2 linked regions of the Homo sapiens genome follow. The protein of the gene in region 1 interacts with the protein of each later gene in a biochemical or structural test. Each region holds a gene or a part of one and is shown in the gene's direction. Other genes may lie near its edges.

Region 1 (17,034 bases):
GCACTTTTGCTGTATTTAGTCATAATCTTATTCACTGAGTGGCAAATGCTTACTCTCTGCCTGGTGAGGTGTGTGTATAAAACAAAAAGCAGGTTGTGACTAACATCACTGTACTAGAGTATTGCCTATCGTTGACTATCTGAAGGAAAAGTAGATATCACTTTAAGTGTGGAAAATACCATGTCCCCATAGGAGGAAATACAAGTTGTAGTTCATGATTGGAGAGAATAGTTTTGTGCATTGAAAAACAGCTTCTCATTGTAAAGAATTTAGTATTTGGAAAGCATGAATGGGAGCCTACTGATTTGCAGTCTCTTTCACATGTTAGAGTAACTTAGAATTTAAGTAAGTGCAGTTGAAAGACTCTTGTCAATTGCAGACAAAAGAATACATGAAGTGGAGGGAAGGAGAAAATTATTCTGAATTCAACCTGAAATAAAATCTTGCTACATTAGTGAAGTATTGTAAAGTACTTTGAGTTAAACTTTGCATGCAAGAAGCCACAAAATTGGATTGAAGCAAGTTGTGAAACATACTAAGTGTCTAGAAATGTATTCTGATATGGAATTTTTAGACCATGGAAATTGCCATGAGTGTAGAAAATTTATATTAGCTCACAGATTGCTTTTCTTAAACTGAAATTAATGAAGAACTTAATTAAGACTTATCTTCTATATCCTCTCACCCCCCTCAAACAAAATACTAAACATAATTTATGTTCTAGGGTTTCAAGTAAACATTTTTGCTAATCATCTGATTTTCTTTCACAGCATATTTCATTTTCTGTCATTGGACTTTGAGCCATTAGAACCATGAGCAACTACAGTGTGTCACTGGTTGGCCCAGCTCCTTGGGGTTTCCGGCTGCAGGGCGGTAAGGATTTCAACATGCCTCTGACAATCTCTAGTGTAAGTAAACTTTACAAATTTTATTATAGATGTTCATTCAGTGCTTAGTCCTCGGGCTGAGTTGTTTAATTCTCTGTTGACCTGTACTCTACTTATTATCATTGCTCCTGGGATTTGATCTTGGCAAATTTGATTATCTATAATAAAGGATGAGGGGAGTAGATTTAGCAAGGATAACTGACTTCAATTTAACTTCTTTTCGTTTTCCCCCATGTTATCAATAATAAAATGGAAAAAGCATTTAACTAGGAACAGACTGTACATTTTTGAACTGTCCCTAATTTGGGGAATTCTCTGAATCTTCGTTCTTTCATATATAATTTTCAAAGGTTGTGCTATGGGATTTTAATAATCTCTTTCAGTTCCAAAAGCTGTTTGTTAAAAACTGTTGATCAAAATTGAATAAAATGATTGTTTCGGAATTATTTCCTCAGCTCACTTTCTGGTGGAGGTGATAGCCAACAGTAAGATGGCCAAAAGCTACTTACCCTTGAAGAGGAAATGAAGGGCTTGGAGCTCCAACTAGATAGCCTATGAATAATTGAGATTTGGCTTTTTACCTCATTATGGATTTAGTTTGAATGTATTCTGTGTATATATTTTAAGGATATGTTTTCATGATGATGATGATAGCACTGATGAGAGGAGTAATTAAAGCTTCTATTTATTGAGACTTGACTATATGTCAGGTACTGTTTCACTTTCATCACCAGTAGGTAATTATTACTATTATATAAGTTTCTAAAAGGTTTGTTTTTGCATATTCAAATAAATATGAATTTCCATCTTCTTTTACTCAAATGGTGGCATATTATACACACAGTTTTTTTTGAGACAGAGTTTTGTTCTTGTTGCCCAGGCTGGAGTGCAGTGGCGCAATCTCGGCTCACCACAACCTCCATCTCCCGAGTTCAAGCGATTCTCCTGCCTCAGCCTCCCGAGTAGCTGGGATTACAGGCATGTGCCACCACGCCTGGCTAATTTTGTATTTTTAGTAGAGACCAAGTTTCCCTATGTTGGTCAGGCTGGTCTTGAACTCCCGACCTCAGGTGATCTGCCCACCTCGGCCTCCCAAAGTGCTAAGATTACAGGCGTGAGCCACCGTGCCTGGCCCACACTGTTTTATACTTTGCTTTTTTTTGCAACAATTTACCCTGAGATCATTCTCTATTAATATATAAGGAGGTATGTGTGTTTTTTTAAAACAATTGTATAATTTTATTTTATAAGGAAAGTGACATTTAACCAATCCCCTACTGAAGAGTATTTGTGGCATTTCCATATTACTGTTACAGTGGTACAGTGAATACCAAATATAAGTACATACATATATATGTGAATATATGTATCTACGTCATTTTGAAAGGTTGTGCCAATTTACACTTTTGTGCAACGCATGAAAATACTATTTTTGTGCCAGTCTTACCAACAAACTTGGATATTTATCAAGTGCTGTGAATGCATCATCTCATTTAATTATCATACCAACATGCAAAATAGTGATATTATTCCCATTGTATATAACTGTGCTGTGCGCTCACATGACTGTATGGAAGAGCTGGCTTTCCAACAGTTATGCTGTGCTGCCTCTTTAATAATTCACTTTACCTTAAATTTAGTTAGTTGTTTCTTTAATCAGATATTTAGAAGATTGTCATTTTGGTTAATAATATATGTGTATGTATAAATATATATACACACACATACTCTGCATCTTGTATGTGTATCCAACTTCATTTTGAAAGATTAAAAATAAGTTTGTAACGCCTAAATATCCTTATTAAAATACTGCAAATCCCATTTTACTAACGGAGTCTCCTTTGTTTCTTGGCTGTGGATTTTTTTAAAGTTATCTTTAATTTATCATCAATTTCTGCCTTGATTTCAGTTAATTAGATTTTATAAGGAAGTATATATATGTAATCCAGCCTGCAAGTTTTAACACCTTTCATGGTTAGATGAAATTTTAAATGTAAAGCATCCATGTGAAAATGTGTCATGTGATTTATTCCTGTTTGAGTGAGTTGGTATTTTATTTCTTCTACTGATGATCTATTATGGGAACAGGAGCAATCTTTGAGTATTATTGGTTTTTACGTTTTGTTAGCATTTTATATTTTAAATATTCTACTTTAATTATCTAAAGAAAGTTATTAGTTTAAATGCTTACTTTTTTGCTGAAAAAAAGTTCAGAAACAAATTGACACCTAAATGAGCCAAACTTAATTATCACTTTGTTGTGTGGTAATAGAAATGCAAATAGAGTATGTTTGCGAATTTTGTGGTACCGTGTCTTTAAAAAAGTTTCATGTGCTTCAGTTTCCTGGCAGACAGTTTGAGGTACTAGCTCCATGTTGTGATGCTGATACAACAGAACACTGTGTACATACATATGTGCCCTCCCCTGGCACAGAAGAAATGCTTTCCTTGTGTAGACAGAGTGCTAATTAAAGGATTTTGAACATACTGATTAAAAGAGACTATGGTAACAAAGCTGCTGAGTTATTTCTGTTCTCTTACAAAAGTCTCTGCCATCTACTGTGACCTTTTTGGGCCTTGTGCAGTGGGGCATGCAATTCATTCTGGACTGGAGAGGATTGGAAGGGGAGGGGAAGGAGAGAAGGGAATGTTGGCTCAATCGGGCTGCTAGGCTCTTGGCCTTTCATTGTAGTTATTTTTAACCCCTTGTGTGGTTTAAATATGCCTAGTAACATTGCCTAATAAAGGTTTGCGTTTAATAACTAATTTATATTGTGGTAAGATTGTTAATGTTATAAATTTTTAACTTACTCTCATCTTAATTAGTTCTTTGGTTATACTTTTTCTGCCTTAATTATGTAAAATTACTGGGATATTACTGGTCATCAGGTTCTTTAATTAATAGTATCAAGAAACAATTAAAACCTGAAAGCATGCTTAAAACATGTAATTTAATGATTCACTTACTTTAATAATGCACATGAAATTCTTAGCAAGGTCTGGCAGTCTCTCAATTATCTTTTATAATAATATTATAAACTTTAAAAAGAAAACTATTTAGAGACTTGAAACATTAAATATTTAACCCCCGTAGTTGTAGGGAACATACAGTTATGGTTTTGTTTTGTTTTTTTAAACTTATTGTCCACTGAAATTAAGAAAGGAAAAAAAATCAGAAGTTTGTACTTAGCTGGGAATCTGCATCTTTAGAGTTCAAAACTGTGCAATTTTTCCTCTGATTAGGTATTATTATGTTGAACTCCAAAGGGTCATTTACATTCCTTTATAACACTGGAGCTCTGGTGTATCGAATTGTGTTATGAGATAAGCCACTAGCAGGGACTTGAACATTCCATTTTCTTTAGATTTTGTTGTATCAGCATGTGAATATGCTGAATACAACTTGTATCCTAAAGCATACAAGCTATAACATTTTCACGTTGGACTCAAATTTCTTCATCATCTGTATTGTATGAATTTTGTATACTGTTTTGTTGGTGGATTTCTAACATAAGATTGCCAGTTCCTGCTAGCTTTTTAAAAAGATCCTCAGGTTGCTGTAGCTGGATGATCACATGTCATTTAATTTCCGATCCTTAAAATGGAGTGCGGGCTACCTAAGTTTGCAGGCTGTCTTTTTATGATCCTGTGTTTATGGAATTGCCCTGAAGCCATGGAATGTGAGGATGGGTTTCATTGTAGCAGTGTGGGTTTGTTGGTTTTTGCCAGTATATTTTATAACAAGAAATAGGAGACTTGTTGGATAATTCAAGGCTATATTTTGGCCAGTTGATAAAGATTATATATTTGTGAGTAACATCTTTTAAGTTGTTATATCCTAAAGTTGAAATACTCTGCTGTGTGTTACTTTCTCATTATGTTTGGGCTCTTTTCTTCACTGTCAATATTTGGATTACCTGAAGATGATATCCCAATTCTCTGTAAACACATTTTAGATGTTTCTTTAAGAGATAAGAATTAGGTCAAACTTTTTAACATCTAAATAACAATGACTTTGATTCTCAAGAGTTAGGGGAGGATAAATTGTTATAAGCTTGGACAAAATTCTAATTGGATTTGAAAAGCAGAAGAAACTTACTATTGCTTGGATTATGGAGCCCTGTTTGGGAGTCTAACACAGAACAGAGAAGGACAGAATTGTGAAACACTTTGCTATGAATTCATTGATTCAGTAGTTATAGTAATACTTCCTAGAAGCCACTGAAGAAGATACAAAGTGGGGAGTACAAAGGTTGGATGGAAAAGAAATAAGCACAGTGCTATAGAACTAGACAGTGTCGTAAGACCTGTCACAAGTCAATATTCTATGAAATGACAGATTCTGATAAGTGTTTCTCAGTTTCAGTGGGTGTAAATCTTTTGTTTGTGGGGGTTGGTTTCCTTTAGGAGAAGTTAATTGAACTGATCCTCAAAGGATGAAATTTAAACACCTCAAAGTCAGCATTTCTCCGTGTTGTCCAGTGCCTAGTGAAGATGAAGACTTTTCTTGCCATTGCTTGACTCCAAGTAAAGCTGTGAATGTAGTTGAGCGATTCTCCAGACCTGCCAGCTGCAGTTTCCCTCCTACCGGAAGACAGAAAGACTTTCAGTCCTCAAGCTGAAATGAGAGAGCCATCCTACCTTGAATAAATGGGCCCATTGTTAATTTTAAGCTCTTGAGTATTTTCTTTTATATTCCCTCCAAGCTACCCTGTCATTATGCCAAGTTAGAAAATTAATTTAGTTTGTATAACTATATGATGTATATTTCACATGTGTGTTCACTCTGCTTTAAAAATATTAATTACCTTTTGTGTGAAGTTCAGAGACCTGTCTTTTCCCATGTGGCAGTTTTATATGTTTTGTGGTCACAAATGTCAGGAATCTCAATGTAATTCTGGATAAATTTTTCTGCTCTATGATTTGTAAAGAAATGAAAATCTTATATTTTTTAATTGAAAATTAGTAGTTTTAGAAAAAAACGCACTTATTTGATTTTAGTAAACGTTGGGCATTTTGAAAAGTTATTCAGAGAAATGTTACTGGTAGGCAGGACTTTTGTATCTGATGGAGGAAACCGATGTAGGGTTTGGATAAAATAAGACTAGCAGGCTGGGCACAGTGGCTCACTCCTGTAGTCTCAGCATTTTGGGAGGACAAGGTGGGAGGATCACTTGATACCAAGAGTTCAAGGTTACAGTGGGCTGTAGTCATGCCACTGTACTCCAGTCTGTGCCACAGAACCAGACCCTGTCTCAAAAAAAAAAAAGAAAAAAAAAAAGGTAAGAATAGCACTTTAGACCTTGGGAAAGAACGTTTTCATGTAACTATTCATCTACTCGTGAGTTAGGTATATCTACCTACTTAAACTAAGAATAGATAGATAATAGATAATGTACAGCTGTATATTGGAATGACTTGGATTTAAATCTTAGCTGGAAAATCAGTTCATTAATTTGAGCTTCTGATTTTCTTTGATGTATGGGAAATGCTTTATAAATTAAAAAGTATACAGGTAGATTTGATTATTATTAATAATTTGGAGCCTGTGAGCTTTCAATTTTTTTTAGAACTTCTGAGGCAAAGAGCTTTTCTTTATGATAGTTGCTAGTCACACTACATGTGAATACACAGTTGAACAGTGGTCTTTGTCTATGACATCCTGTTAGCAGTAGTTCTTACCCAGATTCCCATATACCACAGGACCAGTTATATCTTTTTCCCCCAGTTACAACTGTATTGAGGACAAATCAGTTATGATTTAGTTATTTCTAGAAGCAAACGTTGCTTTAGACAAAAAAGGAGTTATTTAGCATCGTATGAGAGAGAATTATGTTTCAACTTTGGCAGATGAGACTCTAGGCCTTTATTTCAGTATCTGAGATGCAAAAAATATTGAGTACGTGACATAAAATTTGACAAAACTAGATATTAGCATGTGAAATAACAATATGTGGATCTGTTTGCAAATAAATGACCTAATGGAAATGAAAAGAGAAAACATTAAGTAACTAAAGAGCAGTGACCATGGTGTCTACTGATTCTTTAGGTATTCTATGTGTTGGGCCACTATATAGTCTTGTTGAGAAGGCAGGTTTGGTTCCTTAATTAACAGAGAGGGAAAAATCACTTTTCTAGCGTACTTTGTTTTTATTAAGAGGTTTTTTTTTTAAAGGTAATAAACTAAGAATGGACAAAGCAGAGAATATTGAATGAGTATCCCCTTATTCCTTCACCTTTCTTATTTTTTTGTTTCCTGTTTAAGTATAGTTATCTACCCTTCTGTAAATACTCAGATTTCTTTTATAGCTGATGTTGTCACCCATTTTTTATGACAATTACTAGAACAGAGTTCACCAACCTTGTTGGCATTTAGTAACTGGACTCCCAACTGGGCTAAGCAGTTGTAGTAAATGTCCCTAATAGGCGTAAATAGAGGAGAGTAAAATGAACTGGAAATGTTAATAGGAGGGAATGAGAAAGAAAAAGTTAGATGAGAGAAAAAAATAAAGAGGACTTTTTAAAAGGCTGCAGCGTGTCACCCAGGCGGGAGTGCAGTGGCGCGATCTCGGCTCACTGCAACCTCCACCTCCTGGGTTCAAGCAGTTCTCTGCCTCAGCCTCTTGAGTAGCTGGGATTACAAGCATTCGCCACCATGCCCAGCTAATTTTTTTGTATTTGTGGTAGAGACAGAGTTTCACCATGTTGGCCAGTCTGGTCTCGAACTCCTGACCTTTGATCCAGCCACCTCAGCCTCCCAAAGTGCTGGGATTACAGGCGTGAGCCACTGCACCCAGCTTAATTTTCTTTAGGTAAGACATTCATATGGTTCAAAATTCAAAAGATACACGAGCGTATAGGGGGAAATGTCTCCTGGTGCCCTGCTGTTCATTTCCTCCTCCTGGAAGCCACCTGTGTTAGTAGTATACTTCCAGAGATAATCTATAGGTATATCTCCTCCCCACCCTCCTTTTAACACAAATAGTATGCTTAATAGAAATACTTTTTTTTTTGGCATTTTGTTCACTTAACCCAACATCAGTAAATATATCTTCATTCTTCATTCCTTTTTTACCACTACACTGTGTTTGGATTTGTCATAATTTTTTAAATCAGTTCCTATTGATAGACAATTAGATTTTTTTCTAGTCTTATGCTTTTACTGACACTGCAGTGTAAGTTTTGCCCATATATGTATATATATATGTGTAGACATTTAAATTTTTTCTAGTCTTTTGCTTTTACTGACATTGAATTTAAGTTTTGCCTATATATGTGTATATGTTTGTATATTTGTATATTTGTCACATAAATTCCTAGAAATGGAATTGATGAGTCAGAGGGTGTATGCATTTGTAATTTTGACTGATATTGCCGTCTTTATAGAGACACTCCTGCTCATAATATGAGGATGCCTATTTCCCCATACCTATGCTAGCCTAAGTTTCAACAGACCTTGATCATTTCCAATCAGATGGGCCAGTTTCCACCTGTCTTCTTTTTACAGGGCTCAGTCACAAGTATTTTACAAAGGATTTTCTGTGTTTTCAAGTGGTTTGTTTTCCATTTTGCAAGATAATCTAGGAAATAAAAACATGCTGCTCTTCTTTAAATGATACCATTAATTTCTTAAAGATGCCATTTTCTGAATTCTTTCGTCCAGAGCTTTTGTTAGTAATTATCTCCATCATTTGTTTCCCATTTCTAAACTAACTTCCTCTCTATCTTAACCTATTACTCCCAGTTACATGGCAAAAGATTTTGTGTTTTTGGCATAGTGCCCTGTCATAGACTTTTTGGAAAATTAAGCAAATCACATTTAATAGATTCAAAGTTGTTAACTTTGGAATCTGTTCAGTAGGCTGATATACAATCAACCCTTGAACAAAACAGGGTTTAGGGGCACCAACCCCCTGTGCAGTCAAAAATCCATGTGTAACTTTTGACTCCCCCAAAACTTAGCTACTGATAGCCTACTGTTGATCAGAAGCCTTACCCATAATATAAACAATTGATTAATGCATATTTTGTATGTTATAATATTAAATACTGTATTCTTAGAATAAAATAAGCTAGAGAAAACATTTAAAAATAAGGAAGAGAAAATATATTTACTGTTCATTAAGTGGAAGGGAGTCATCATAAAGGACTTCATTCTTGTCATCTTCACTTTGAGTAGGCTGAGAAAGAGGAGGAAGAGGAAGGGTTGGTCTTGCTGTCTCAGGGTGTGCCAGGTAGGTTAGGTGGAGGTGGAAGGGAAGCAGGAGAAAGCAGGAGAGTTGGGCACACTTGGTGTAACTTTTATTGAAAAAAATCTGTCTGTAAGTAGACCCGTGCAGTTCAAACCTGTGTTGTTCAAGGGTCAACTGTATGTGTGGTTTTGAATTCTAGTCTTTAGCTCCTTTTAAATGATGTGACAAGGAGACTGACCATTATGAGGTGTTCACTATGGTCCGAGGAATGGCAAATTTCACCCTTATGAGACTCAGTGTGTTTTTATTATCAACCTTTATTAGCTAATGGAAGTTAACTGAAATCAGGTAGGTTTATAGAGTGTTCTGTAGCATAGTGAGTCAGGCATTGTGAAGGTATACTAATGTGTGGCACAAGGTAGTTACTCATTTTAGCCTAGTGTGAGCAGCAGAGTGTATGTGTTGGTAACTATAGTAACAAAAAGAGTAAGGATGCCAGGGATATTTATATTTTTTTGTAGTAAAGATGAGGAAAGGAGGAATTTCTCTTTAGTGTGTTGCTGTAAATGTTAAATATGATGAGAAGAGTTTTGAATTAGAGAAGAATTTGCAACACTTGTTATTTGGATTCTGTGAATTGTTAAACATTTTTTTCCCCAAGGTCCAGAGATTGATTTAACAATGGCCACTGTACTTCATGATAATTGTCCTGGCTAAATTTTAATTGAAGAAAAGAGAAAGTAGTTACGGTAATGACATTAACAATTTAATGCTGTTTACCATTGATTGGATCAGGGATTTAAGTGTTGTGATTCAGTTCCATTGAGATCTAATTAACAGCCCAGTATTTTTCAAATGATTTCTGGGATATTAACTTTTGGAAGTGGTAGAATTAAGAGATTTAGTAAGGCTGTATAACACTAGCCAGAGCAGACTATGTTCTGAAAGTATGTTTGTTCTGAAAGTATTTTTCTTCTGAGAAAACGTTACCGGAGGACAGATGTCCTTTAGAAAACAAATGTTTTGTCCCTTAACTAGGACCCCTTAGAAATGTTCTGGAGAAAGAAATTATATCTAGCTAGCTAGCTATCGTGTTACACATATAATTTCCATGATTTTGGTCATTCCTTTGAAGTATCTTTATGCTACTCACTTGCAAATATCCTACAAATGGTTGTTTTGATCTTTTTAGGGTAGACGTTTCTGTTTTGTTTAAATGTACCTCTGTCTATTCTGGAAGATTCTGGTTATTTGGTGTCCAGTTCTCTGAGTGATTCTTTGCTATTTTAGCAGACAAAAGTATTTCCAAAATTCATCAATGGCTTATTCTCCTTCAGGCTGGTTCCTTATCCTCAGGCTAGCATCTTGACTAGGCAATAATTTTAGAAACTTATATTTAATATATTACTGCCTTATTTAAGAACTGTATGAGCTTCCCATTATCTTTTGAATTATTACTTAATTTCTCTGGTTGGTTTTCAAGTTGCATATAAATGGGCCCGTTTAATATAACTTGAGTTTATAGTCCAAAATGCCAATTTTGAACCCTGAAGTTCTTAGTCTTTTTATTCTTTTTGCATACTACTTTTGTTTATTCTTATCATCCCTAAAGCCCTATCTCTTCCTCTAGGAACATTCATGTATCCTTTGCTCTCTGAAATGTTTGACTATTCCAGTTCAATTCGGTCTCCTTTCTTTCCTGTATTAAATAATAATGATAATAATGAAAATATGCTAACGTTTATTGATCCCTTGTTACTGTTTGGGTCCTGTTCTAGATGTTTTGTACATGTTCGATTATTTAATTCTCATAACAGCCCCATGGGGAAGTGTGATTTTATTTTATTTTAGTTTTATTTTTTTGAGATGGAGTCTCGCTCTGTCACCCAGGCTGTAGTGCAGTGGCATGATCTCGGCTCACTATAACCTCCACGTCCTGGGTTCAAGCGGTTCTCCTGCCTCAGCTTCCTGAGTAGCTGGGACTACAGGCCTGTGCCACCACACCTGGCTAATTTTTGTATTTTTCTTTTTTTTCAGTAGAGACGGGGTTTCACCATGTTGGCTAGGCTGGTCTCAAACCCCTGACTCCCGCCTCAGCTTATCAAAGTGCTGGGATTACAGGCATGAGCCACCTTGCCCAGCCAGGAAGTACAATTTTAAATCTCTGATTTAGAGATGAAGAAACTGAGGGGCAGAGAGGTTAAGTAACATGCCCAAAGTTACACAGCTGATAATTGGTTAGGCTCAGGATTTGAAACCAGCCAAACTGAGTAGTAATAATGTGTTTACCTGTTATGCTCTTATTTCCGAGGAATAGATGACAGTTCTCACTAGAGATAGCCAAATTTGTGTGTTTGTGTATGTGTGTGTATGTGTGTGTATGTGTGTGTGTGTCTGTTTCTTTTTTTTTTCCCCTTTGTTTTTGAGACAGGGTCTTGCTCTGTGGCATGGGCTGGAGTGCAGTGGCACTGTCACAGCTCACTACATCCTTGACCTTCTGGGTTCAAGTGATCCTCCTACCTCTACCTCAGCCTCCCAAGCAGCTGGGACTGCAGGTGCATGCCACCATGCCTGGCTAATTCTTTAATTTTCTGTAGAAACAGGGTCTCATTATGTTGCCCAGGCTGATCTGTAACTCCTGACCTCATGTGATCCTCCCATCTCAGCCTCCCAAACTGTTGGTATTATAGGCCTGAGCCACTGGGCCAGGTCTGTGTGTTTCTTAACCAGAGAATAGATCCTAGAGAATCAAAAACTTGTATGTATGGGAGTAACTGAGATTATTAACAAAAAAATATATAACTGGTTTCCAGACTGACTAGTAGTCAGAATCATCAGTGAGACTTTGAAAGTGTGGATCCAAGGACTTTGACACAGACTTTGAATTTAGGATATTTAGGGATTCATTAGATTCCACATTTTTAACATGCTTTCTAGATGTTTCACCTGCACCAGTTGGGTTCCATTTTGTATACTTATGTTTGGGAACCATATGTAGCTTTGCTTTTGTAAAAACAAAAAAAAAATTTTATTATAGAGCTTTTGTTACTTAGATCATTTCAGCAAAAATGTTAAGGGTAAGTTACTTGGAATTTGAACTGGAGTTGACTAAATAATGTGACAGATCTGCTTTTCTCTAACTGCCAGCCTCTTCCTGATTTTTCAGAGTTCAGTCACCATAGGTCAAGTCTTTTATAGAAGTAAATGGCAGTTTTAATAATATATGATGTCAGGTATTAGTTACGTTTATGATGCTGTAAACACCTTTATGACAAATGAAAGATTTGGAGGACTTTGAAATTGGCATGCTATTTATAATATTTTAATGCTTTAACAGTTAATACGGAATGTTAGATTTACCAGAGACTTACAGAGAAATCCTTGGCTATACTAGGTTTTGTTTTACACCTCATGATAAAGTGGTTTCATTAAAGTTAAAACAAACAAGTTACAGTCTTTTAAGGCCATGGCCAGAGAGATCAATTCAAATATTTGGACTCCATGTTAGATTTCACAGCAGTACAGTTTAAGTATAATGAATAGTTCATGTATTTTGTTAGATCATGAGCCTCTCTTATCACTCAAGAAAACCCCCGAGTCTTATTTATTCAAGATTACTTTAGAATTCCCAGTACATGTTCAGTAACTATTAATGATCACAGTGGTAATAGAGAACGAATGGGAAGCTGGGTTGCCATTGCAATCAAGTTTCTTCTAGATTTGTTAATGTACCTGATTGATAGAATTAACTGAGGAAAGTTTTTTTTTTTTTTTTTTGAGACGGAGTCTCGCTCTGTTGCCCAGGCTGGAGTGTGGCGGCATAATCTCAGCTCACTGCAACCTCCGCCTCCCGGCTTCAAGCAATTCTGTGCCTCAGCCTCCTGAGTAGCTGGGATTACAGGCACCCACCACCATGCCTGGCTAATTTTTGTATTCTTAGTAGAGACAGGGTTTCATCATTTTGGCCAGGCTGGTCTTGAACTCCTGACCTCGTGATCCACCCGCCTCAGCCTCCCAAAGTGCTGGGATTACAGACATGAGCCACCGTGCCTGGCCTAATGAGACATTTTAATGAAACATTTTGGTTTTCCTTGTTTTCAATCCTAATCAGGATTTAAGTTTCTAGGAAGTATCCTAGAGGTTACATTATATGATAGACCCTTACTTCCCAAGGTGGTCTTCCCATGTGTCAGCCAGGATTTGTTTTTTGTCTTTCCGACCCAACAGTTCTACTTCTTTTCTTTAGTGCCCTGCACAACAAACATGCATGTTTGCACATTACAGCCTTTCAAACAGGGGAATGAGTTATATTTCCCTTTGAGTCTTGTGGATATTCTGTAAGAAGCCATTTCTTCAAATGTTTCTCTCATGACAGCTTCCCTATCTTCACATCCCTTAGCATTTACCTTTAAAAGTAGTTTAGGTTTTAATTGTCTCTTTAAGTCAACTCCTAGAACTGAACCTAATACCTCAGATATGTTAAGACCAATGCAAAGTTTTAATTATGAAGTAAGGAAACTGATTTTTGTATGACTTGATGGTGGGATTTAGAAGCTGTTCTGAGCAATGAGCTTGATGGAACTTTCACTTTTTTCCCTCTATGCACTTTTTTTTTTGGGATGGGGTCTTGCTCTGTCACTCAGGTGGAGTGCAGTGGCACAATCAGAGCTCCATGCAGCCTTGAACTCCTGGTCTCAAGCGATCCTCCTGCCTTAGCCTCCCAAGTAGCTGGAACTGCAGGTGTGCGCCACTGTGCCCAGCTAATGTTTTACATTTTTTGTAGAGATGAGCTCTTGCTTTGTTGCCCAGGCAGGTCTCAAACATGTGGGCTCAAGTGATCCTCTGGGATTACAAGAATGAGCCACGGTGCCTGGCATCTGTGCACTTTTGTACTGCTTGAAATTTTTACAATTTCTATGTCTTCTGTTTAAGAGAAGACATAAAAAGGAAAGAAAACTAAACCTAGTCTGTGCTCTGTCCATGTGCATATTTAGGCTTGTCTGGACATAATATGGAGATTAGGAGAGCCTAAGAGAAGCAGATGTTTTTGTTTGTTTTGTTTTTAGGTGCATATGTCTGTGGTGTGTGTTTGGATGAGAAATCAAAGACTCATGAGAATAAATTTAGGAAAAACATAATTGAGGTGTAGTCAAACTTAGTCCTTGTCGATTTTATTGTTACTACTTACTATCTTTTAGGAGAAGTGGGTAAATTCTCAGTATGGCAGGTTATGTCCTGTTGGTATGGTTTTCTGAATGACACATGTCAGAGCCATAAGAAGAGGTGTTAGTCAACACATATTTATTGATCTCTTACCATGTTCTGGGCCTTGGATATAGAGTGTGCTTTTCCATTTTCTGACAAAGGCCACATGGCACATGATATGAAATGTAGGAAGGAGATTGGACATAGGAGAGGACATAAATGTCATCAGATCTAGGAAAGGAAAAGATGAGCGTTGATCACATAGCCTGTGTCAGGGTTGCAGGGAACTTCTAGACTAGGATTTATAGAACCCATGGGGCAGACACAAAAGTAGTAGTGGCAGACAGAATCATTTATTCTGTATCTTTATTGAGTGCCAGCTATGTGCTCTGTACTGTTGTATGCACTGAAAATACAGTGATAAACAAAACAAAGTTATGTACCTTATAGTCTAGTAAGGGGGAATGGTAACTCACACACAAAAAAAACAAAAAACATAAGCAATGTAATTTAATAAGGTGATGTGCCAGAGAGTAACTGGAGGAAAGGGATGGGTGTTTAGGGGTAAGAGTTTCATTTTTAGATTGGACAGTCAATACAGGCCCTCTGAGGAGGCAGCATTGACCTAAGAATGAGAACTAATCACGTGAAGAGCTGGGAAAACACATTGCAGGCACAGAGATTAGCAAGTGCAGGGGCCTTGAGACAGGAAAGAGCTGAATGTGTTTAAGAAATAGAAAGAAGGCTAGTGTGGCAGGAATGCTGTGAGCAAGGAGGAAAGTGGAGTGAGAATAGGGAGTATGTCCAGTGCCAGGGTGAGAGATAAAGAGGTTCCTGGTAATGAGGAGGATAACATTGGAGGCCATGGTAGGACAACTCCTGGGGATTTTAGATGGATTTTGATTCCTCTGGATTAGAGCTGAGCTAGAGAGAGTGGGTTACTATTATGGTGATCTGACCATATCTCCAGGCTGGTATGTTTCATAAATTGCTTTTGATAGAAATTCCAGGGCAAGAATTTAAAATTTTTTTTGAGCAAAGGAATAACTGTATAGCCTTCTGAGGTGACTATTTGGAAGTGAAACACTCATTTAAATATATGTTTGTCTTGAAAATTTTTAGTTATAGTTCTAACACATACATGATTTTTTTTCATTATTTGCACACTGATTATATTTTTCCTATTTTGCATTCTTTTAATTTTTTTTTTTTTTTTTTTTTTTTGAGACAGAGTCTCACTCTGTCGCCCAGGCTGGAGTGCAGTGGCGTGATCTCGACTCACTGCAACCTCCGCCTCTCGGGTTTAAGTAATTGTCCTGCCTAAGCCTCCCCAGTAGCCGGGAGTACAGGCACATGCCACCACACCCGGCTAATTTTTTGTATTTTTAGTAGAGAGGTTTTCACCATGTTAGCCAGTATGGTCTTGATCTCCTGACCTCGTGATCCGCCTAGCTCGGCCTCCCAAAGTGCTGGGATTACATGCATGAGCCACTGTGCCTGGCCTAAATTTTGTTATTTTTTATTGTTAGATGTAGCTTGTCTCCCAGATGGCTTCTGTTTTCCTTTCCTTGTGATGTTACGACCTTTTCTACTTTAATAAAGAAATGTTGCATACACATTCAGGAGTTGTTTACAAATTATGCTGGTAACACATTTATTAGAATTTGCCTCAAAGACAAAGTGAGTGTTAGGATGTTTATTCTAGGTCAGATCTGTTGAGCTGAAAAAATTTTTACAGTATATCTATTTTTAAAAAGAATATTTTAGCCAATTGGTTGGCTAATATACCCAATGCCAAGAGTTACATTTTATGACCCTTTTATTATTTCTAGTGGAGGGTGTGTATAAGTTTTAATATGTTTTTCATTTCTGAACTTTCAGAGAGATCACTTGATTAGAGTTAATGTCTAGTTTCAGTAAATTCAGATTTTCAGCCTTCAACATTGTAATTGACAAAAATGTCATCAGTATCATATAGCTCTAGGTCCTCAGTAGTAGATAATAATGTCTACATTATGAAGTAGTAAATTATGTAACTTCATACTTCATATTTGTATTGGTCTGTTCTCACACTGCTAATAACATATCCAAGAGTGGGTAATTTATAAAGGAAAGAGGTTTTTTAATTGACTCACAGTTCCACATGGCTGGGGAGGCCTCATAATCATGGTGGAAGCGAAGGAGGAGCAAAGTCACATCTTACATGGCGACAGTCAAGAGAAGAGATCATGTGCAGGGGAACTCCCCTTTATAAACCCATCAGGTTTCGTGAGACTTTTTCACTATCATGAGAGCAGCATGGCAAAGACCCGCCCCCATCATTCAGTTACCTCCCACCAGGTCCCTCCCATGACATGTGGGAATTATGGGAGCTACAATTTGAGATTTGGGTGGGAACACAGCCAAACCATATCAATATTCAAGATCAGCTTTTTATAAATTCAGGGTAGCAAGTTTTTCTGTGAGTTTTGGGGTATAGTTGCAAAATACTACTTTAAAACCAACTTATAAATTACCTGTTATATTAAATATGATAACACAATACACCATAAAGTCTACTTGAGAGATAGTTTCGTAAAAGATTTTATCTTAGATTTAAAGTAATCTAATAGTACTTAAATTTCTAGGCTTAAAAAAAAAAACTTCAGTTAACCATGATTATATAGTGATGAATAGTCAAATATCTGTAAACATTATATTATCAAAACTAATATATTAGTACTGTATTTTTCTTGCTTTTTTCATAGCAG
Region 2 (16,278 bases), on another chromosome or scaffold:
TCTCACTGCAACCTCCATCTCCTGGGTTCAAGCAATTATCCTGCCTCAGCCTCCCGAGCAGATGGAGTTACAGGCGTGCACCACCACGCCTGGCTAATTTTCGTATTTTTAGTAGAGAGGGAGTTTCACCATGTGGGCCAGGCTGGTCTCGAACTTCCGACCTCATATAATCTGCCTGCCTTGGCCTCCCAAAGTGCCGGGATTACAGGCGTGAGCCACCGCACCTGGCCTTTCTGCAGGATTCTGAATTGTGTATGTGTGGAGAGTAAGGGGACTGTGTGCTCTAGAAGGGCTGTGGTGGGAGGTCTCTGGCCTGGTGCAGGTGGGTGTTGGTTGGGTCTGTGCACTGTGGGAGTGGGTGCCTGCAGGAAGCCAGTTTATCCTTTTGCAGGCAGTGGACTTCTCTAAGGCTGCGGGCATGTGTGTTGGCATCTTGGAGTCCCAGGTGTTTTGGCGTGAGTAATACTGTATAGATGTAAGTGTGTGTAGTGTTTGCAATGTTGTAGTGTGGGTGCATGTGTCTGTGTGTCCTGTTTGTTGAGAGGATTCATTGCATGTGGTTCTGTTAGGAGTGATAATGGGGTGTTTTGAGACATTTCCTCCTTGGTCTCTATTTTTTGGTGTGTTGGTTATGCAGATTTGGTGTTTCGGTAGTGTGCGCGGAGGTCAGTGTGTTGGTTGTATATTATGGTGTACTGTTGTGCGTTGTGCATTTGGCAGGTTGTGTCTATTGGTGTGTGGCTGTTGGGTTTGTCTGTTGTGTCAGTCGTACATATAAATGCCACGTTGGGCGTGTGGGTGTGTGCATTTGTATATTGCTCTGTGGGTGTGCGAAGCAGTGTGTTTGTGTAACCCTGCAGGTTTGGCCTATGCTGAGTAACCTAAGATGGGAGCTCCCTGAGCCTTGGCTCTGCCCTTGCCTTTGGCTGCTGGAGACCCTGGGCAGCAATGGCCCTTTGTCCAGCCACAGGAAAACCCCACCCCCCTCCATCGGCAGGGGACTTGGGAGGGGCCCAGACTGGTAGGCTCCAGCCTCCCGTCCATTGTTCTGGGGCCTCTCTGGAAAACAGGATGGGAGGTGAAAGGTGGACACAGGCCTGGACCCCCACACTCCCTGAAACAACCCAGGGGCACAGCACAGAATCCTTAGGAGGGAGGGCCTGGGGACAGTCCCCATTTTGTGGATGAGAAAACTGAGGGGTTTCATTCCTATTAAAAGGGAGAGAGCCTGAAGCCCCACACCCTTTATGTGCCCACCCACAGCCTCCTGCCGGGTTTGGGGGATGGAAAAATGACACCCCAGAATGGAAACAAAACGGTCTATTGTGGTTTCCATTTCTGAATGCTTACCATGTGCTAAGTGCAGAAGTGTCATAACTCTGCAGGTTAAGTTCATATTTTGTACCCATTTTGCACAGGAGTACACTGAACCATAAGGCAACAATTTATTCTTCAAAGGACACTACTCTAAACATTACTGTATTTCAAGTAGTACGCTGTGTGACCTTGAGCAAGTTGCTTACCTTCTCTGGGCCAGGCCCTAGTTCAGCTCTGGGACACAGCAGTGACCAAAGGAGCCGTGGTTCCTGCTCTCTTAGAGCCCATAGCCTGGGCAGGGAGGAGGAGGCAAGGAATGGCAAATACACAAGAAAACAAAGATCATTTCTGATGGTAATGAATTCAGTGAATAAGAGCAGGAGAATGTAAAAGAAAGTAGCCTAGGGGGATCTGAGAAGGCCTCTGGGGAGGCGACATTTGACCTGAGACTTGAAGAATGAGGAGTCTGGCAAAGACCTGGGGCTGATCAGTGTTCTAGGAACAAGTAACAGCAAGGGCAAGGGCCCTGAGGCAGGACAGAGCTATTAATAGTTTAAGGAGGGAGGCCTCTGGGCTGGTGAGAGAAAGGGAAGGGGCCCAGTTGGGTAGTGGGCAGGGGAGGAGTTTGGATCTTATTCTCCGTGAGATGTGCTGGTTCTGGTGGTAGTGGGGGGGCCTGTAGTCTCCTGTTACAAGGGTTGGGGGTGTGGGGACAGCCAGAGCCAAAGGTCTCTCCCCCACAGCTCCGGCAGTCCCAGCCCAGAGGCGCCGGCCTGGCGGCTGGAAGATTGCACTGTGGGCACATCTGGGGAGCAGCTGCCGAGCCAGGGCCAGAGTGGGTCACGTGGCACAGGGCAGGACCGTCCTGGAGCCTACAAGGCCAAGACTCCTAGGAGGGGCAGTGGAGAACACTCTGGACGAGAACAGTGCGTCAACGAGGAGGAACTGTGCACTGTAGACGTCCAGGCACACGGCCCCCTGCAGCCCCACACAGCCCCTGCCTCAGGACAGAGTGCCTGGGTTCAATGCCACCTCCCAGCTTTGTGATCTGAAACAAGTCACTCAACCTCTCTGGGTCTCATGGCCTCAGCTGTGAAGGGGACATGATATTACTACCACAGTTCCACAGGCTGTTCTTTTTTTTTTTTTTTTTTTTTTTTTTTTTTTAATTTTTTGAGACGCAGTCTCACTCTGTTGCCCAGGCTGGAATGCAGTGGCACCATCTCAGCTCACTGCAACCTCTGCCTCCCGGGTTCGAGCGATTCTCCTGCCTCAGCCTCCCTAGTAGCTGTAGTAGCTGGGACTACAGGCTCCCGCCACCAGGCCTGGCTAATTTTTTCATATTTTTAGTGGAGATGGGGTTTCACCATGTTGGCCAGGCTGGTCTCAAACTCTTGACCTCAGGTGAACCACCCACCTCAGCCTCCCAAAGTGCTCCCAGGCTGTTTATTTCTAATTCAACAAATATTCGTTGAGCACTTCCCACATGCCAGGTGCTGCATGAGGCTCTGCGTGACAGCAGGGAACAGGACCTCCGTGGTCCCTTCCCTTCTAAGCACACAATTAATGCTTTAGAACCAGGCCTGGCATTGAGGAAACTCTTAGTAAATGTAAGCCATTTGCCTGGAGCTCTGGAGGCCAGAGGAGGCACCCTGGAAGGCAGAGAAGGAGGTGTGGTGACAGAAAAATCCTAAGGAAAGTGCACTCCCTTTTATCACCAGGTGCTGCAGTTGGCTCCTGGTATGGCTCATTTCACTCTCACAACCACCCTACGAAGAGGGATGAGCATTAGCTCCAATTTATGGATGAGGAAACTGAGGCCCAGTTTGTCAATGGCACAGCCAGGACTGGAGGCAGTGAAGGGCTGGTCCCTTTTTCTCTCTGGGGCTCAATATTCCCATCTGTGAAATGGGGCATTACAATAATACAGCTGCACCAGCTCCAGGGAGCAGTTGTGAAATCAGATGTGCCAGGTATGTGAAAAGGGCTTCCTGAGAGACTATGACCATGAATGCTGGGTTGGGAATATGGGGGTTCATTTAAGGAGCCCTCCGAACTTCCTGGCCACCAGAAGTGTCGGTTTTCCTAAGGTGACTCAGGAAAGGAGGACTGGGAAGAAAATGCACACTCAATTCACACTACCAACAAGGCCAGAAAAATGCCCATCTGACAACAAGATAAGCAGGCAATCTTTATTTAAACTCCTTGTCAGGCCTTAAACATGTAAAAGATAAGGCCAGGTGTGGTGGCTCATGCCTGTAAATCCCAGCAGTTTGGGAGGCCAAAGAAGAAGGATCACTTGAGTCCAGGAGTTCTAAACCAGCCTGGGGCAACATAGTAAGACCCCTTCTCTACAAAAAAATAAAAAATTAGCCAGGTGTGGTGGTACATGCCAGTAGTCCCAGATACTTGGGAGGCTAAATAGGAGGATCGCTTGACCCCAGGAGGTCGAGGCTGTGGTGAGCCGTGATTGCACCACTGTACTCAGCCTGGTGGACAGAGAAAGAGCCTGTCTCCAAGAAGAAAAAATTGCATAGAACTGAAAACACACACAAAAATTAGTGCATATAAATTGGGTGAAAACTGAATTTCATGCCATGCGCGGTAGTTCATGCCTGTAATCCCAGCACCTTGGGAGGCCAAGGCGGGCAGATCATCTGCAGTCAAGAGTTCAAGACCAGCCTGGCCAACATGGCAAAACCCCATTTCTACTAAAAATACAAAAAATTAACCAGGCGTGGTGGCGTGTGCCTGTAATCCTAGCTACTCGACAGGCAGGACAATTGCTCGAATCTGGGAGGCGGAGGTGGCAGTGAGCCGAGATCGCACCACTGCACTCCAGCCTGGGCGACAGAGCACTCTGTCTCCAAAAAAAAAAAAAAAAAGGCCACGCGTAGTAGCTCACGCCTGTAATCCGGCACTTTGGGAGGCCGAGGCGGATGGATCATCTAAGGTCAGGAGTTCAAGACCCGCCTGACCAACATGGTAAAACCCTGTCTCTACTAAATACAAAAAATTAGCCAGGCGTGGTGGCGCGTGCCAGTAATCCCAGCTACTTGGGAGGCTGAGGCAGGAGAATCGCTTGAACCCGGGAGGCAAAGGTTGCAGTGAGCCAAGATTAATGCCATTGCACTCCAGCCTGGGCAACAAGAGCGAAACTCCATCTCCAAAAAACAAAAAAGAAAACTGAATTTCACCTGAATTCTGGTTGTGATATTGTACTGTAGTTATACAACATACCAACTGTTGGAGTGTTAGAGAGGATGTGGAAGAACTGGACCTCTCAAATACTGTTGATAGGAATATAAAATGATACAACCACCTTTGGAAAACAGTTTGGCTGGGTTTTTTTGTTTTGTTTGGAGGCAGGGTTTTACTCTGTTGCCCAGGGTGGAGTGTAGTGGCACGATGATCTTGGCTCATTGTAGCCTCAACCTCCCAGGCTGAAGCAATCCTCCTGCCTCAACCTCCCAGGCTGAAGCAATCCTCCTGCCTCAACCTCCCAAGTAGCTGGGACTACATGTGTGCACCACCACATCTGGCTAATTTTTGTACTTTTTGTAAGAGATGGGGTTTCACCATCTTGCCCATGCTGGTCTTGAATACCTGAGCTCAGGCATTCTGCCTACCTCGGCCACACAAAGTGCTGGGATTACAGGCATGCACTGTGCCCAGTGAGTTTGGCAGTTCTTTTGTAAAGTTAAACAAATACGGCCAGTTGTGGTGGCTCACGCCTGTAATGCCAGTACTTTGGGAGGCCGAGGTGGGCAGATCACTTGAGGTCAGGAGTTCAAGATCAGCCTGGCCAACATGGTGAAACTCCATCTCTATTGAAAATACAAAACTTAGCCAGTCGTGATGGTGGGCGCCTGTAATCCCAGCTACTCCAGAGGCTGAGGTGGGAGAATCGCTTGAACCCAGGAGGCGGAGGTTACAGTGAGCCAAGATTGTGCCACTGCACTCCAGGCTGGACGACAGAGCAAGACTGAGTATACATTCACATAAACACCTGTATACAAGAGTTCATGGCCAGGCACAGTGGCTCACCCCTGTAATCCCAGCACCTTGGGAGGCTGAGGCAGGCGGATCACGAGGTCAGGAGATCGAGATCGAGACCATCCTGGCTAACACGGTGAAACCCCATCTCTACTAAAAATACAAAAAAAAAAAAAAAATTAGCCGTGCGCGGTGGCAGGCGCTTGTAGTCCCAGCTACTCGGGAGGCTGAGGCAGGAGAATGGCGTGAACCCAGGAGGCGGAGCTTGCAGTGAGCCGCAATCTCGCCACTGCACTCCAGCCTGGACGACAGAGCGAGACTCTGTCTCAAAAAAAAAAAAAAGTTCATAGCAGTTTTATTTTACTAACCAAAAACTACGAACAATCCAAATGCCCCTCACCAAATGTCTGGATAAACAAATGGTGGTATATCCATATAATGGAACACTACTTAGCAATAAGAAGGAATGACCGCCGGCCCGGTGGCTCACGCCTGTAATCCTAGCACTTTGGGAGGCAGAGGCGGGTGGATCACCACCTGAGGTCAGGAGTTGGAGACCACCAGCCTGGCCAATGTGGCAAAACCCCATCTCTACGAAAAATACAAAAATTAGCCAGGTGTGGTGGCAGGCCCCTATAATCCCAGCTACTCAGGAGGCTGATGCAGGAGAATCGCTTGAACCTGGAAGGCAGAGGTTGCAGTGAGCCAAGATCGCACCACTGTACTCCAGCCTGGGAACAGAGCGAGACTCCGTCTCAAAAAATAAAAAGAAAAAAGGCCGGGCACAGTGGCTCACTCCTGTAATCTCAGCACTTTGGGAGGCCGAGGCAGGTGGATCACAAGGTCAGGAGTTCAAGACCAGCCTGGCCAAGATGGTGAAACCCTGTCTCTACTAAAAAAAAAAATACAAAAATTAGCTGAGCATGGTGGCGGGCACCTGTAATCCCAGCTACTCGGGAGGCTGAGGCAGAGAATTGCTTGAACCTGGGAGGCGGAGGTTGCAGTGAGCTGAGATCATGCCACTGCACTCCAGCCTGGGCGACTTGAGTGAGGCTCTGTCTCAAAAAACAAAAAAGAAAAAGAAAGAAGGCCAGGTGCAGTGGCTCATGCCTGTAATACCAGCACTTTGGGAGGCCGAGGTGGGCAGATCACGAGGTCAGGAGATCGAGACCATCCTAGCTAACACGGTGAAACCCTGTCTCTACTAAAAATACAAAAAATTAGCCGGGCGTGGTGGCGCGTGCCTGTAGTCCCAGCTACTCGGGAGGCTGAGGCAGGAGAATGGCGTGAACCCAGGAGGCAGAGCTTGCAGTGAGCTGAGATCGTACCACTGCACTCCAGCCTGGGCGACAGAGCGAGACTGCATCTCAAAAAAAAAAAAAAGAAGAAAAGAAAAACATTAGCCAGGCGTGGTGGCGGGCACCTGTAGTCCCAGCTACTCAGGAGGCTGAGGCAGGAGAATGTCATGAACCCGGGAGGCGGAGGTTGCAGTGAGCCGAGACCGTGCCATTGCACTCCAGCCTTGGGGACAGAGCGAGACTGTGTCTCAAAAAACAAAAAACAAAAACAAAAAAAGACCGGGCGCGGTGACTCACGCCTGCAAGTGTAGCATTTTTGGGAAGTGGAAAAGGGCGGATAACCTGAGGTCAGGAGTTCGAGACCAGCCTGGCTAATGTGGCGAAATCCCATCTCTACTAAAAATACAAAAATTAGCCAGGTGTGGTGGTGGGCACCTGTAATCCCAGCTACTCGCGAGGCTGAGGCAGGAGAATTGCTTGAATCTGGGAGGTAGAGGTTGCAGTGAGCGGAGATCGTGCCATTGCACTCTAGCCTGGGTGACAGAGCGAGATTCCGTCTCAAAAAAAAAAAAAAGTGGATAGAAGGATATGCATAGGTTTTATACAAATACTATGTCATTTTATTTATTTTATGTATTTATATTTTGAGACAGGGTCTTGCTTTGTCACCCAGGCTGGAATGCCGTGGTGGCATCTTGGCTCACTGCAATCTCCACTTCTTGGGTTCATGAAATTCTCTTGCCTTAGCCTCCCAAGTAGCTGGGATTACAGGTGTGCACCACCACGCCCTGCTAATTTTTCTATTTTTAGTAGAGATGAGGTTTCACCATGTTGGCCAGATTGATCTCGAACTCCTGACCTCAGGTTATCCACCTGGCTTGGCCTTACAAACTGCTGGGATTACAGGCGTGAGCCACTGCGCCTGGCCCTGAATTAATTTCTACAGCATAATTTTCTCTCTTATTTTTATTTTTTTGAATCAGAATCTCACTCTGTCGCCCAGGCTGGAGTGCAGTGGCTTGGTCTCGGCTCTCTGCAACCTCCACCTCCTGGGTTCAAATGATTCTCCTGCCTCAGCCTCCCAGGTACTTGGGACTACAGGCGCCCACCACCACACCTGGCTAATTTTTGTATTTTTAGTAGAGACTGGGTTTTGCTATGTTGGCCAAGCTGGTTTCTCTGGAATTCATTGCAGTAAACAGAATTGCTGGATCAATTAATTCACAGTTGAAGGCCAGGCACTGTGGCTCACGCCTGTAATCCCAGTACTTTGGGAGTCTGAGGTGGAGAGATCACAAGGTCAGGAGTTTGAGACCAGCCTGGCCAACATAGTGAAACCCCGTCTCTACTAAAAAGACAAAAAATTTAGCCTGGTGTGGTGGCGGGCACCTGTAATCCCAGCTACTTGGGAGGCTGAGGCAGAAGAATCGCTTGAACCCAGGAGGCGGAGGTTGCAGTGAACCAAGACTGTGCTATTGCACTCCAGCCTGGGTGACAGTCTGAGACTCTATCTCAAAAAAAAATAAATAAATAGTTGGTGATGGCCAGGCACGGTGGCTCATGCCTGTAATCCCAGCACTTTGGGAGGCCAAGGCGGGCGGATCACCTGAGGTCAGGAGTTTGAGACCACCCTAGGCAACATGGCAAAACCCCGTCTCCACTAAAAATACAAAAATTAGATGGGCGTGGTGGTGGGTGCCTGTAATCCCAGCCTGAGGCAGGAGAATGACTTGAACTCAGGAGGTGGTGGTTGCAGTGAGCTGAGATCGCGCCACTGCACTCCAGTCTGGGCAACAGAGCGAGACTCTGCCTCAAAAATAAACAAAAATAAACACTTGGTGATGAATTAATACTCTAATTTCCTCTGGTTGACTGTTGTTCTTCCAATTATTTGGCAATTCTTTTGAGCAGCAAACTATTCCCTCCCATCATTAATTTAGGATTGCTAAACAAGGCGTAGGGAGTTTAGAGAGTTTTGGTGTGTGTGGTAAGGGGATGAGGAGTCTGGCTAATTAATTGATGATGTCTCTCTCTTTTGAAGCTGGTCTCACTGATTGGTTTGGTTTTCCTGGTTTCCTGATGTGGAGGCAGAAGGCTCCTTTACTTTTCCCTCATCCCCCGAACTTCTGTGGGAAAACGGAACCTGCTGATAACTCAGTGAATTAATTGCTGCGGGGTAGTGCGGTGGAGCGGAGCAGGGAGGGACCATAATATCACCCTCCACTGGTGAGCACAGATTTTTACCCCTGCTAATGTTGTGTGGCTTTGGGTGACTAATCTGAGCTTCGGTTTCCCCACCTGTGGCATGTCCAGGACTCTGCAGTCAGACTGCCTGCTCTCAGCAGGAAGCGGTTGCATTACAACACTGTACCCTCCTTATAATAACACAACTATGGTTATGACTTAGGCGTCGTGTGGAGCCTCAGTTTCCTTTGTATAAAGAAACCAAAGAGCTCCTTTCTTTAGAGTTGTGAAAAAGACTACAGAAGTTGATCAAGCCGGGTGACAGAGTAAGACCCTGTATCATTATTATTTTATTTTGAAACAGAGTCCCACTCTGTCGCCCAGGCTGGAGTGCAGTGGCATAATCTCGGCTCACTACAACCTCCGCCTCCTGGGTTCCAGCGAGTCTCCTGCCTCAGCCTCCTGAGTAGCTGGGGTATTACAGGTGCGCGCCACCACACCTGGCTAATTTTTCATTTTTAGTAGAGACGGGATTTCACCATGTTGGTCAGGCTGGTCTCGAACTCCTGACCTCGTGATCTGCCCACCACGGCCTCCCAAAGTGCTGGGATTACAGGCGTGAGCCACTGCGCCCGGCCCCCTGTATCCTTTTTTTTTTTTTTTTTTTTGAGACGAGTCTCACTCTGTCGCCAGGCTTGAGTGCAGTGGTGCGATCTCGGCTCACTGCAACCTCCGCCTCCCAGGTTCAAGCAATTCTCCTGTCTCAGCCTCCCGAGTAGCTGGGATTACAGGCGAACGCTACCATGCCCGGCTAATTTTTGTATTTTTAGTAGAGATGGGGTTTCACCATATTGGTCAGGCTGGTCTCGAACTCCTGACCTCAGGCAATCCACCCGCCTCGGCCTTCCAAATTGTTGGGATTACAGGCGTGAGCCACCGCGCAGCCCTTCATTTTTTAAAATAAGAAATAAATGAAAAAAGATGATCAAGACAAACTCTTCATACAGTGCCCGCTGTACAAAGTAAGAAATTAATAATGGTCACGTTTGTGATTATTATTTAAACACCAAGCAGATATTAAATATTAGGGCTCAGAGAGGGCATGCGACCCGCCTGAATTCACTCAGCTGCAGAGCTGGAAAGAGAACTCAGGCCTTTTTCCCCACGCTGGAAGGGGTAGCTGGGGCGGAGAGGTGGGGGGAGCGGTGAAGAAACCCCAAGCGGCCCAAGCTGTGGGTCTGGGTTGGGAGACTCGCAGGTGTGGGGCGGGGAGGTAAGGTGACCCTTGCTCAGCGACCGCGCCCGCAAGAAACGCATTCCCAGGCCTCCCGCCCGGGGTCTGCAGGTGACGGGCTGGGGGGAGCACGGGAACTAGCTAGACCAGTTTGTCGTCTCCATGGCGACCGCCCGCGCGGCGCCAGCCTGACAGTCCGTCCGGGTTTTATGAATGGGTGACGTCACAGGCCTGGCGTCTAACGGTCTGAGCCGCTGGTTCAGACGCTGACACAGACCGGCCCGGGAAGGGAGGGGGGAGACTGTAGCTCCGCAGCTGCCGCGCCGTGGGAGGGAGACCCTGCTCTGAGGTCTTTGAGAAGAAAATTTAAAAAGCAGCCAAAAATGGGAAAAAACATTAAAAAATCACGAACTGTTGCAGGTTCAGGAAATTTTTGCAAGGAGCTGCAAATTCAAGGTGGAATCGAATGCAGCCTCACTCCACTGCGCTCTATCTAGTTCACTTCCCAGCCACCCAGCCCCAAACTTACTAGACTTTCCCGAATTAATTGCTCCCACCCGGGAGGGATCTGGGTAGGCCCTCCGGGTCTCAGGAACACGAACAGCAACATTATTTAGGAATTGAGAAAGCCCAGGGGAGCAGATGTAAAGGAGCGCCCGCTTTAAATTTCGGTCCTGATATTTGTAGATCAGGGTCCGAGAAGCATCTTCCAAGAGGGTCCGGAAACCCAGGCTCTCTGGGCTATCCAGAGCCAGCCGCTTCTCCGTTCGGGCCTCAATTTCTCTCATCTGTGAAATGGAGCTGGAGAAGTGAGAAAGTGAATATGGGAAAAACTGATTCCTGAGGTCTTTTCATTATAAGGCAATGCCTGCTTAGCTTCCTTGCCTCCTTCCAGAGGAGCCCAGTGCGGCCCTCGCCTCTACCCGCTGCCCTGCCCGGTGCCCTGCCACCGACCCACCCTTGCTGTTCTGAAACCCGGGTCGTCTTTCCACACTGCGAGCAGGCACTAGACGAGCAGGAGGCTGGACCTAGGAGCGCGGGTCACGCCCCCATGCCGCCCATTGGCTGCTTTTGAACGTTCTGAGCCCGCCCCTCCGGGGGCCGTGGCGTGTTTATAAAAGACAAGCTGTGGCTCCGCACTCTCATTCCACGTTCTTAACTGTTCCATTTTCCGTATCTGCTTCGGGCTTCCACCTCATTTTTTTCGCTTTGCCCATTCTGTTTCAGCCAGTCGCCAAGAATCATGAAAGTCGCCAGTGGCAGCACCGCCACCGCCGCCGCGGGCCCCAGCTGCGCGCTGAAGGCCGGCAAGACAGCGAGCGGTGCGGGCGAGGTGGTGCGCTGTCTGTCTGAGCAGAGCGTGGCCATCTCGCGCTGCGCCGGGGGCGCCGGGGCGCGCCTGCCTGCCCTGCTGGACGAGCAGCAGGTAAACGTGCTGCTCTACGACATGAACGGCTGTTACTCACGCCTCAAGGAGCTGGTGCCCACCCTGCCCCAGAACCGCAAGGTGAGCAAGGTGGAGATTCTCCAGCACGTCATCGACTACATCAGGGACCTTCAGTTGGAGCTGAACTCGGAATCCGAAGTTGGAACCCCCGGGGGCCGAGGGCTGCCGGTCCGGGCTCCGCTCAGCACCCTCAACGGCGAGATCAGCGCCCTGACGGCCGAGGTGAGATCCAGATCCGACCACTAGATCATCCTTATACCGACGGGGAAACGGAGGCCAGAGAGGGCGTGGGCGCTTGCACCACTTCCGTCCCATCCTTGCGGGTACCTGGCTATGCGGGGGTGCCTAAGGAGCCTGGAAAAAGCGCTCCCCCGTCGTGCTTCCTGGGGAAGGGGGCGTTCGCTGCGCTCGGAGCGGCGTCCCTTCCAACCCGCCGGTCTCATTTCTTCTCGTTTTCACAGGCGGCATGCGTTCCTGCGGACGATCGCATCTTGTGTCGCTGAAGCGCCTCCCCCAGGGACCGGCGGACCCCAGCCATCCAGGGGGCAAGAGGAATTACGTGCTCTGTGGGTCTCCCCCAACGCGCCTCGCCGGATCTGAGGGAGAACAAGACCGATCGGCGGCCACTGCGCCCTTAACTGCATCCAGCCTGGGGCTGAGGCTGAGGCACTGGCGAGGAGAGGGCGCTCCTCTCTGCACACCTACTAGTCACCAGAGACTTTAGGGGGTGGGATTCCACTCGTGTGTTTCTATTTTTTGAAAAGCAGACATTTTAAAAAATGGTCACGTTTGGTGCTTCTCAGATTTCTGAGGAAATTGCTTTGTATTGTATATTACAATGATCACCGACTGAAAATATTGTTTTACAATAGTTCTGTGGGGCTGTTTTTTTGTTATTAAACAAATAATTTAGATGGTGGTAAAGTTGTAGTGACTTCTTGGGTTGAGGGGAGGGGCCTGGGCTGGGGGTTGACCCCTGACCCTCTTCACAGCTGGTTCTGGGAGGAGAATTGGAGGGCTACATCTGGATTGTTGCTCTTACCGGCCTGAATGAGTGTTTCCGGTGTCTTTAAAGTCTATTCTTCCCCCACCATCCCTGCCCATTTCCCTGCTCCCCAGTGTTATAAAACTAAATACTCCAGACCTCTGGGGTTTCTCACAGTGATCATTGGGCCATCTAGATCACCTGGGGAGGTTGTTAAAATGCAGATGAACCTGCCAGGGCCCCCTCTGTATTGGGAGTATTGAGCAAGCCATTTAAGTTGGAGAACCTGGCCGCTGGACCACCCACTTCCTTGCCAAGATGTGGATAAAGTGAGACCCAGTGGAAAGGGACTTGCTTAGGGCCATAGCTTGTGAGAGGCAGTGATTCTATCACCCCATTCCCCAGTTGGAGGTGCCTCCCCCAACAGCCTACCTCTGGGTTCCAGCAGGCAGCCCTGGGGCTCCTGGCTCATCCAAGTGGGTGAGCAAGTTGGCAGGGCCAGGCTGGGCACAGCTGCCGAGACACCTGCTCTGGGTCCAGACTCGGCCTCCTCACTCTGGCCTGGCTCTGTCGGCAGTTCAAACAAATCTCCCCCACCAACCCCGGGGCTCCTGCGTAGGATCTGAGGAGTGGACGAGTCTCATTACCCAGCTCCTGAGCAGGAAAAATATGTCATTGGCAAGGGTCTAAGAATCTTCCTGGACATGTATGTGGATTTCTACTCAGGGGAGCATGTATGAGTGTCTACGCCTGTGTATGTAACAGGAGTAAGCTGATCTTCCCCCACTACTCCCACAGTGGGGATGGGCCAACTGTTCACATATAGGCTTGGGGGAGGGGGTGTAAGTAGGAGTATGCTTGGGGGTGTGTGCAGAAGGGCAAATGAGAGCACATGTGTTCTGCAGATAAGTGTGGAACCTCCAGCTGTTTGGGCTTGTGTGTTCTGCCTAAATGCATTGTAGGCATCTCTGCATGGGTCTGGCATGATGGATGGGTTTGTGTGTCTGGGGGCCACAGAACCACACTGTGGGTTTCTGTGTGTATAACTGTTCTATAGATTGGTTGGCATTCCTGGGCCTCTGCGGGTCTGGAGTGAAGGTGGGGACAGCTGTGTTTGGGCAAACCCTTCCTCAAAAGTTCACGTGGCAACTCCCTGGGCTATCGTTAGGTCCTGGGGGCACCAACCCTCAAGGATTGCTGCCAGGTAAACCCCCCTGTATTACATATGGAGAAACTGAGTCCCAGGAATGACAAAGAACTTGTCCCAGACAGGTAAGGGCTATTAATATATTTTGTCAATAAACAATAGAATAAAATCAATAGCCCTTAGCACCAGAAGCCTGGCTCTGCTCAACTGAACCCTTTACAAAAACGATTTCATGGATCCCTGTGGGGCTAAAGGCAAGACTGTGATCCCAGTTTTACAGCAGAAGGAACAAGCTCAGAGAGGGGATGAACAAAAAATCAAATGAAAGATTATGATTTGAGCACTAACATTAAGCCAGGTACACCCCCTCCACAGTTTATGGATTTTATCGAAGAACCCAGTACTTGCAGGCGAATTATGTTCTTTGCTACCTCCTCCCCACCGGCTGCTGTATTACAGTACTAACCTCACGGAATGTAGTACAGAATAAATGAAATAAAGTAAGTGTGTAAAACGTTTAGCACAGTGCTTGGCACAGAATGTTTCATAGTTATAAATTATTATTGTCGCCTGTGAGTCCTTGGAGTGTCCTCGGAGGCACACGTGTGCACGCACGCACTCTCACGTGTGGGCCCCCGCCTGCAAGCCCACCCACGGGGTCTGAGCGGGTTCCCCCTCGCGTACTCCGACATGCAGGGCCTTTTTCCAGGGGAGGAAGGGGCTGCGGCGGGGGCCTGGGCCACCTCCCCCGCCATTCAGGCACACTCTGGATTCCACGTTTCCCTCTGTTCCCCTTTGGCCCAGACCCAGCCCATCTGGAGGCCGGCTCCGCGGCGGCCTGGGAGCGTTTCCATCAGCTGGGCCCGAGGAATGCGGAGCTATTTAACCTGAGCATCCCCAGGTGTACGGAGGCGCCTGGCTGTCTGGGGCCCGCAGCCTTTGGCACAGCCGCGCTAGACAAACAGCGCGCCGCCCCCGCCCTGCCCCTCCGCCCCCAGCTGCAGCCGGGCCTGGGAACCGGCGGGCGCCGGCGGCTTGCATAAGAGGCTCCGGGCCTCGCAGAGGGAGGGGGGACAGAGGCCACCGGTGTGTGTGCATGTAACACACAAAACCCTGCTCCTTTGGAAATCATTAACTCCTTAACCCCTCCTGGACAGGACGAAGCCAGGAGCTGGGGTGGAAGATGCCGAGAAACCCGAGGACCAAGTTTCTTGGGCACTGGACTCTGCCTTTCCGGGGCTGTACTGTTAATTTTATTTAAGAAATACAGAGAGCTTATTGTGTGCTGGGCACCATGCTAAACTCTTTACAATATCAATTCATTTAATCGTCAGAACTTGTTAACGAGGCCAGTGCTATCATCATATGCTCATTTTAATAAGAGCAACCACCACCACTACAACAAGAGTAATAGGCTAACATTTTAGTAGGGAGGCAGGTAGAACACAAGCCCAGAATCAACCTTGATGCTCATCACTTCACCTGTCAGAGCCTCTTCTTTTTTGGAAAACGGGCTTCAGAACCTGGGCTTCAAGGATTAATTGAACCAATGCACCTAAAAAGCATAGCACAGGCTCATGGTAGATACTTAGTGCATATTGCAATAAAGTGTTTTGAGCGGATTGTCTCAACAGCCCTACCAGGTGTGGGCCTACTGGTATATTCACTTTTTTGGTTTTTTTGAGACAGAGTCTCCCTCTATTGCCCAGGCTGGGGTGCGGTGGCACCATCTTGGCTCACTGCAACCTCCACCTCCCAGGTTCAAGTGATCCTCCTGCCTCAGCCTCCCGAGTAGCTGGGATTACAGGCACGTGCCACCATGCCCAGCTAATTTTTGTATTTTTTTTGTAGAAAAGGGTTTTCACCATGTTGGCCAGGCTAGTCTCGAACTCTTGACCTGAAGGGATCTGCCCACCTCAGCTTCCCGAAGAGCTGGGATTACAGATGTAAGCCACCGTGCCCGGCCTGTGTTCACTTTTCAGATGAGAAAACGGAGGCATCAAAGAGGTGAGGTGACCCACCCAAGGCCACATTGCACATTACCTTAGAGGACTTTCCAGAAATCAGACTTGTCTAAATCAGGTTTATGAGGGGCCTCATGTTCCCACAGTATGTCCAGTTTATAAAGCCTTTCATCTTATTTCCAACTGAAATCATACCTGGTCATTATATTTATTTGTTTTAAAAGCATAACTCAGATAAATGCAAGAAATATACACATATCACAATTTTTGCAACCCATATTGGGGAATGTCTATTTTTTTTTTTAAGACAGTTTTCCTCGTCACCCAGGCTGGAGTGCAATGGGGCGATCTCGACTCAACCGCAACCTCCGCTTCCCAGTTTCAAGCAATTCTTCTGCCTCAGCTTCCCAAGAAGCTGGGATTACAGGCATATGCCAACACGCCCAGCTAATTTTTGTATTTTTAGTAGAGACAGGGTTTCACCATGTTTGCCAGGCTGCTCTCGAACTCCTGACCTCAGGTGATCTACCCTCCTCAGCCTCCCAAAGTGCATGAGGCCACCGTGCCCGGCTCTTTTTTTTTTTTTTTTTTTTTTTTTGAGACAGAGTCTCGCTCTGTCGCCCAGGCTGGAGTGCAGTGGCGTGATCTTGGCTCATTGCAACCTCCGCCTCCCGGGTTCAAGCAATTCTCATGCCTCAGCCTCCTG

The links.
Region 2: the proteins of PDLIM5 (region 1) and ID1 form a complex in vitro, tested with the Homo sapiens proteins (one study listed by IntAct).

The regions. Positions count from the first base shown.
Region 1 is NC_000004.12:94,454,477-94,471,510, forward strand, and holds part of PDLIM5 (PDZ and LIM domain protein 5), read left to right. Parts: intron 1-770; 5' UTR 771-812; coding exon 813-908; intron 909-1,342; exon of another isoform or gene 1,343-1,767; coding exon of another isoform or gene 1,768-2,082; exon of another isoform or gene 2,083-2,708; intron 2,709-17,034. UniProt on the Homo sapiens protein: May play an important role in the heart development by scaffolding PKC to the Z-disk region. May play a role in the regulation of cardiomyocyte expansion. Isoforms lacking the LIM domains may negatively modulate the scaffolding activity of isoform 1.
Region 2 is NC_000020.11:31,594,116-31,610,393, forward strand, and holds ID1 (DNA-binding protein inhibitor ID-1), read left to right. Parts: upstream 1-11,173; 5' UTR 11,174-11,272; coding exon 11,273-11,698; coding exon of another isoform or gene 11,699-11,722; exon of another isoform or gene 11,723-11,937; coding exon 11,938-11,979; 3' UTR 11,980-12,395; downstream 12,396-16,278. UniProt on the Homo sapiens protein: Transcriptional regulator (lacking a basic DNA binding domain) which negatively regulates the basic helix-loop-helix (bHLH) transcription factors by forming heterodimers and inhibiting their DNA binding and transcriptional activity.